Linked DNA regions of Homo sapiens. The protein of the gene in region 1 purifies or fractionates together with the protein of each later gene. This does not show direct contact. Each region holds a gene or a part of one and is shown on either strand. Other genes may lie near its edges. The genes, in order: ANKS6 and TIMM9.

The links.
Region 2: the proteins of ANKS6 (region 1) and TIMM9 purify together in Homo sapiens (affinity purification with mass spectrometry; one large-scale study listed by BioGRID and IntAct). This does not show direct contact.

Annotation. Positions count from the first base shown.
Region 1 is NC_000009.12:98,782,766-98,786,580, forward strand, and holds part of ANKS6 (ankyrin repeat and SAM domain-containing protein 6), read right to left. Parts: intron 2,112-3,815; coding exon 2,067-2,111; intron 1,393-2,066; coding exon 1,188-1,392; intron 1-1,187.
Region 2 is NC_000014.9:58,417,367-58,421,181, forward strand, and holds part of TIMM9 (mitochondrial import inner membrane translocase subunit Tim9), read right to left. Parts: intron 1-3,815. UniProt on the Homo sapiens protein: Mitochondrial intermembrane chaperone that participates in the import and insertion of multi-pass transmembrane proteins into the mitochondrial inner membrane.

The DNA.
Region 1 (3,815 bases):
CTAAGTGTTCCTTCCAGGAACAAAATGAAGACTGAGGCTAGATGTGGTGGCTCACACCCGTAATCCCATCACTTTGGGAAGCCAAGGTGGGAGGATCACTTGAGCCCAGGAATTTGAGACCAGCCTGGGCAACATGGGGGGCCCTGTCTCTACTAAAAATTTTGTTTAAAAATTAGCTAGGTGTGGTGGTGCAAGTCTGTAGTTCCAGCTACTTGAGAGACTGAGGTTGGAGGATGCTTGAGTCTGGGAGGTCAAGGCAGCAGTGAGCCATGATCACGCTACTGCACTCCAGTCTGGCAACAAAGTGAGATACTGTTGGAAAGAAAAGAAAAGAAAAGAGAAGGGAAGGAAAAGGAAGGGGAGGGGAGGGGAGGGGGAGGGGAGAGGAGACAAAACCAACAGCTCTGCCCAAAAATCACTGACCCCATGGAGACTCCACTTCTTCCACCCTAAATCAGGACATCTCCATTGGGAAAGTCTCCTACAGACCAAGGTGTCTGAAATAAAATTTCGTCTTGGAATTCAAGACTCATCGAATAAGAAAACAAACTGTTTTCAGATGACACAGGAAAGTGATCTGATCACCTAAAAGAGGGCAAGGAAAGAACCTCTAACTGGGAGTCAGATCACTTAGCAGCTACAAGATGCCCACCCCAAAGACGAGGCCTCCAGGAGGATGACAGCCCATCCTGCTGGGATGATCACATAAGAAGGGGTTCATAAGCACCCTGTAAACACTGAAGCCTATTCAAAAGGAGAGGGGTAGGACACATCTCACCATCAATCATCACAAGACGACAATGGTATGAATAACCAATGTTTACTTCATACAGGAGCTACTTAAGGAGGTCACTATATCTCAATGTGAAAACTCCAATGAATCAGTCACTGTGTTCAACTGAAACCAACCTAGAGAACCTTATCTCTCTGCATAAAATGCTCCTGCTGCATGGTTTTTCAGGGCCATTGTGAAATTCTGTGATGGGGGAACAGGAAATCTGGACACAGAAGGGTGGGACTAAAATGAGCCTGTGCCGCTTTTTTTTTTTTTTTCCATGCCTCAATGTCGTCATAGTCCTGGGGTTTGTATGCAGCATCTCAGGACCAGAAGAGCCCATTGGGAACCTCCATCTCAGGCCAGAGCATCTGTCTGGCCTTGTCGCTGAGGGCGTGGGGCTGGCACTGACCCATGGTAGGTTGCCTGCATGAGGGCCGTCCAGCCATGCACGCTGTCCTGCTTGTCAACATCCGCGTGCCTCTCCACCAGCAGCTGCACCAGAGCCAGCTGCCCCGTAACAGCTGCTAGCATCAGTGGCGTCGCCCCGTCCCCATTGACCAAGTTCACGTGGCTGGGGTCTTCATCGGCAATCTCTTTGACCAGCTGGAAGTTTCCTGCAAACACAAGCAGGAGTCCGGGTGAACTGTGGGCCTGGTACCATAGGCTGATTTCTCCTGTGGTTCATGTAACAAACACTTGCTGGCCCTGCTCTGCCTCTGCAGTGGGCTGCTGGGCATCATAGGGGATACTAAGAGGGCGTCAGAGATAGCCCCGACTCTTAAATGCCTCAGTCTAGGCGAGACAGAGACAAACACACGAATGGGCAGAAGTGTTACCAAAAGACAGAAGTGTTGTTAGTGTCTTCAGAGAACGGATGAAGGAGACAGAAGAAGACAGAAGGAGAGTTCAGGTCTCGCTGCGGGGTGAGGATCGGGAAGGGCTTCCTGGAAGCAGGGTCTATATCAAGAGAGAAAATTTTAGGCTAAATGCCTCTTTGTCACAAAGAGACTGGAGTGGGTATGCAGAGAGGCATTTCAGATGCAGGAAGAGCTAGGGCATAGCTAGACAGTGTTTGGCTGGAGTGGGGCTGGAGGCCGTCTGGAGTCTATGTGTAGAGCTCTACAATAAATACTGGCCTCCAGGATCTGAACTTCCAAACACCAAACACCAAAATGCCTGTTTCTTTCTCAAATACCCTGGGTGGCCCTGCAAAGGACTACAAATATTAGGTTGGGAGAATGTAGCCCTATATTCTTAAATATCCAAAAAGATTTTCTAAAGCGCTTACCCATTTTCAATGCATGGAAAATATCAGGTCGCCTTTTCTCCTCATCTGGGTAAACAAAGATTTTTAAAGTTAACCACGGAAAGGTTTAATATAACAGAAAAGTCACAAGGGTGTAACAACACAGCCTGGCTTTAAAAAGCATCTAATTCTCAAAAGCAATCTAATTGGAGACCTACGTAATGGACAAATCCAGCAGCTCTTCTGGAAGGTTTATTACCCAAGAACATCTGAAAACACTTCAGAGACAGATCTTGCCAACAAAACACGAATGAGCAGCAGATCACGGCCCTGATCTCATGCAAATAAAGCAATCATTTTTAGGCAAAACAAACGTTGGCATATCCTTTCTTAGATATACTGAAAAGTCTTGGGGTCTTAGAAAATCCTGGATTCCCATGGACATTGTTTAAAAATTTTTTTTCTTCTAAAAACTAAATGTACAATCATAATTCCAAATCAGAGGACCCCTGAGATATCGAGCAGCTGAGCTCTAAGGAAGTTCACAGCCACAGCCAACAGAAGAGCCAATGCTCATATTTTCTTTCCCTCCCATGTAAGAAGCAATCAGAACATGCTCCCTCCTCCAAACCTGCAGACACAGCTGGCCAAAAGCCGCTGCCCAACTGGGCATCTTCATGCTGTACCCTGAAGCCCAGCTGCTAGGCTGGGGCCGGACCCCATGCCTACCTGCACAGCTGAGCCTTGCTGCAGCCGCCAGATGTTAGCCCCTCCCTCACATGCTCATCCCACACCTTCCTCCAAGCTTGGGCCAGCAGGTACCCCATTCCTGTCAGAGCAGGCATCCTCATGGCCAGTCTGCTTGCTGGGGGGCTGAAGGCAGGCCTTCTGCAGCCTTTAATTGATCCCAGGGGATGGAGCAGCTGCCAGAGGGCACTTGTGACTCTGGGCTGACTCTGGTCGAAATGAGCCCTCTTGAGTAACTGGGAGGAAGCTGCAGCCCAGGACAAGGAGCACAGAGTGTGGAGTCAGTGCACGTGAATTTCAGCGCACATTTTTAGAGTAAGCTGCCTCTTCATCACAAATGTGGGGATAGCATCCCTCTCACCTGGCTGTTGCAGGGATCAAATGATAATGTTAAGGCGCCATTCAAAGAGCAATTACTTTCTTTAGCAACCAGCAAGGTAAACCCCAGAATTCTTTTTTTGAGATGGAGTCTCGCTCTGTCACCCAGGCTGGAGTGCAGTGGCGTGATCTTGGCTCACTGCAACCTCTGCCTCCTGGGTTCAAGTGACTCTTGTGCCTCAGCCTCCCGAGTAGCTGGGATGACAGGCACACGCCACTACACCCAGCTAATTTTTGTATTTTTAGTAGAGACGGGGTTTTGCCATGTTGGCCAGGCTGGTCTCAAACTCCTGACCTCAAGTGATCTGCTCGCCTTGGCCTCCCAAACTGCTGAGATTGCAGGTGTGAGCCACCGCTCCAGGCCGGAACTCCAGAATTGTTTTTTTTTTTTTTTTGAGATGGAGTCTTGCTGTGTCTCCCAGGCTAGAGGGCAGTGGTGAGATCTAGGCTCACTGCAACCTCTGCCTCCCGGGTTCAAGCGATTCTCCTGCCTCTGCTTCCAGAACAGCTGGGATTACAGGCACCCACCACCGCATCTGGCTAATTTTTGTATTTTTAGTAGAGATGGGGTTTCACCATCTTGGCCAGGTTGGTCTCGAACTCCTGACCTCGTGATTCACCCACCTCCGCCTCCCAAAGTGCTGGGATTACAGGCGTGAGCCACCA
Region 2 (3,815 bases), on another chromosome or scaffold:
ATGGTGGCATGTCCTATACCCCCAGCTACTTGGAGGTTGAGGCAGGATTGCCTGAGCCAAGGAGTTTAAGGCTGCAGTGAGCTATGATCATGCCATTGCATTCCAGCTCAGATAAAACAGCAAGACCCTGTTAAAAAAAAAAAAAAAAAAAAGGAAGTGGAGGTAAGGAAGGAAGAAAGGGGAGGGAGAGAGGGAAAGGAGCGTGGGAGGGAGGGAAAGGAGCGTGGGAGGGAGGGAGGGACTTAGGGAAGGAGGGAAGGGAGGGAGGGAGGGAGGGAGGAAGAAAGGAAGGAAGGAAGGTAGGAAGGAAGGAAGGTCTTAAATCAGTAATCCAAGCTCCTCCTACCTCAAGCACCTAAAAAAGAAGAGCAAAATGAACCCAATGAAGGAAATAAAGAGCAGAGATCAATTTAAATGAAAAGAGAAAAAAGAAAGAGCTAGTTCTTTGAAAAGATTAATAAAACTGACAAACCTACTAGCAAGAGAGAAGACACAAATTATACATCAGGAATGAAACAGGGTGTACATTACTACAGGTTTTGCAGACACCAAAAGGATACAGGAATATTACAAACAACTCTACATACATAAACCTGACAACTTCTTTATGAAGTTAGTATTATCCTGATATTAAAACCAGGCAAAGACAGTACAAAAAAGAAAACCATAAAAATATCCCTCATGAAAGATATAAAAAAGTCTATTACTATTAATATTAGCAAATATAATTCAGCAATATATAAAAAGAATTATACAACTTGACCAAGAAGGGTTTATTCCAGGGATGCAAGACTGGTTTAATATTTGAAAATTAATCCGTTTAAGTCCACATATTAATAGACTGAAGAAGAAAAACCAAATGATCATAAACATTGATGCAGAAAAAGTATCTGAAAAAATGCAATACCCATTCATAGCAAAATATCTCAGAAAAAAAGGAAGATCAATTTGATAAACAGCATGTACAAAAAAACCTACAGCCTACACTATACTTAATGGCAAAAGATAATACTTTCCCATAAGATTGTGAGCAAGGACAGATGTCCACTCTCACCACTCTTATCTAACATACTGCTGAAAGTTCTACCCAGTGCAGTGAAGCAAGAAAAGGAAACAGACATAAAGATTGTAAAAGAAAAAACAAAACTGTTCCTGTTTGCATGTAATATAATTATGAACATGCAAAATCGAAAGAATCTACAAATAAACTCCTAGAATTAATTAAGTTCAGCAGTGTCCAGTATACACAATAAGTATATTTAAAAAATCAATTGTATTTCTATATACCATCAATGAACACATGTATACTGAAAGTAAAAATACAATATCATTTACAATTACTCAAAGAAAAAAAAAGATTTAGGGGCAAATCTAACAAAACATGTACGGACTTGTATGTGGAAAACTACCAAATGCTGACAAAAGAAGGCAAAGACCTAAACACACAGAGAGACATACTGTGTGTTCAGAGATCAGAAGACTCAATATAGTAAGAATGCCAATTTTCTTAAGGCTGATATACGGGCTTATTGCAATTTCTATCAAGGTCCTAACAAGATTTCTTATAAATATACACAAATTTATATGGAAATTTATATAAAATTTATATAAAAAGCAAAGGGACCAGAATAGCTAAAACAAATTTGAAAAATGAAGAATAAAGTGAGAGGAATTGGTCTACCTGATTTCAAGACATAAAGAGCCTACAATAATCAATGCTGTGTGCCACTGGTGGAGGGACAGACAAATAGTCAGTGGAACATAACAAAGAATCTAATAACAGATTAACACCAAAAAACCCAACTGGCCAGGTGAGGTGGCTCACACCTGTAATCCCAGCACTTTGGGAGGCCAAGAAGGGAGAATTGCTTGAGCCCAGGAGTTCAAGAACAACCTGGGCAACACAGCGAGACCTTGTCTGTACAAATAATTAAGAAAATTAGCTGGGCATGGTGTCACATGCCTGTAGTCCCAGTTACCTGGGAGTCTGAGGCAGGAGAATCATTTGAGCCTGGGAGGTAGAGGCTGCAGTAAGCCATGGTTGCGCCACTACGCTCCAGTCTGGAAAATAGAGTGAGACCCCGTCACACACACACACACACACACACACACACACACACACACACACACACACACACAAACACATACACACACACACACACAAAAATACACTCCTGCCCAACTGATTTTTGGGAAAAAAAGATGTGAGAACTAAGTTTCTCACCTAATACAAAAATTAACTCAAAATGGATTGGGGGGCCAGGCATGGTGGCTCATGCCTGGAATTCTAGCACTTTGGGAGGCCAAGGTTGGCAGATGGCTTGAGGCCAGGAATTTGAGACCAGCCTGGGTAACATGACAAACCCCGTCTTTACCAAAAATACACACACAAAAAAAATTTTAGCTGGGCATGGTGGCACATACCTGTAGTCCCAGCTACTCAAGAGGCTGAGGTAGGAAGGATGGATTGCGCCCAGGAGGCAGAGGCTGCAGTGAGCCAAGATTGTGCCACTGCACTCCAGCCTGGGTGACAGACCCTCTCTCTAAAAAAAGGATCAGGAATTTAATGTAAAATATAAAACTACTAAAACTTTTATTTATTTTTAATAAACACAGGGTCTCACCATGTTGCCCAGGCTGTCTCAACTCCTGGACTTAAGCAGCCCTCCCATCTCCACCTCCCACAGGGCTGGGATTACAGGCGTAAGCCACCATGATTGGCCAACTACTAAAACTTTTAGAAAAATATTAGAAAATCTGGCTTTAGGGCTAGGCAAAGAGTTCTTATATTTGACATCAAAAACACTATAAGAGGAAAAATTAATAAATTAGACTTCATGAAAATTAAAAATGAAATTAAAAAATTAAAAACTTTTGCTTTATGAAAGAACATTGAGAGGATGAAAAGCTACAGACCAGGAGGAAATATTTGCAAACTACATAACTGACAAAGAACTAATAAGCAGAAGATATAAAGAACTCTCAAACCCCAGCAGTAAAAACACAAACAATCCAATTAGAAAACAAGCAAGAGCCGTAAAAAGGTATTTCAGCAAAAAGGAAATACATATGGCTAATAAGTACCTGAAAAGATGTTCAACATCATTAGCCATTAGGGAAATGCAAATTAAAACCAAAACAAGCTGCTGGGTGCGGTGGCTCACGCCTGTAATCCCAGCACTTTCGGAGGCTGAGGCGGGCAGATCACCTGAGGTCAGGAGTTTGAGACTAGCCTGGCCAACGTGGTGAAACCCCATCTCTACTAAAAATACAAAAGTTAGCCGGGCATGGTGGTGCATGCCTGTGGTCCCAGCTACTCGGGTGGCTGAGGCAAGAGAATTGCTTGAACCCAGGAGGTGGAGGTTGCAGTGAGCCGGGATCACGCCACTGCACTCCAACCTGGGTGACGAGAGCAAAAATCCATCTCAAAAAAAAAAAAAAAAAAAACAAGCTATATACCTATCAGAATGGCTAACATAAAAACAAAACAAAACAAAAAAACAAAAACAGTGGCAATACCAAATGCTAGTGAGGACATGGAAAAACTGAATCACTTACATATTCCTGTTGGGAATGTAAAGAGTTTGGCAGTTTCTAAAGAAGTTATACATTCATCTCCCATATAACCCTGCAATTGCATTCCTGGGCATCTGTCCTAGAGAAATGAAAATTTGTGTTCACAGGAAATCCTATATGTGAATGTTTGTAGAAACTCTATTCTTAATAATCAAAAACTGAAAACCCAAATGTTCTTCAGTGGGTGAATGGTTAAACAAATTGGTACATCTATACCTGTAATACTATTCAGCAATAAA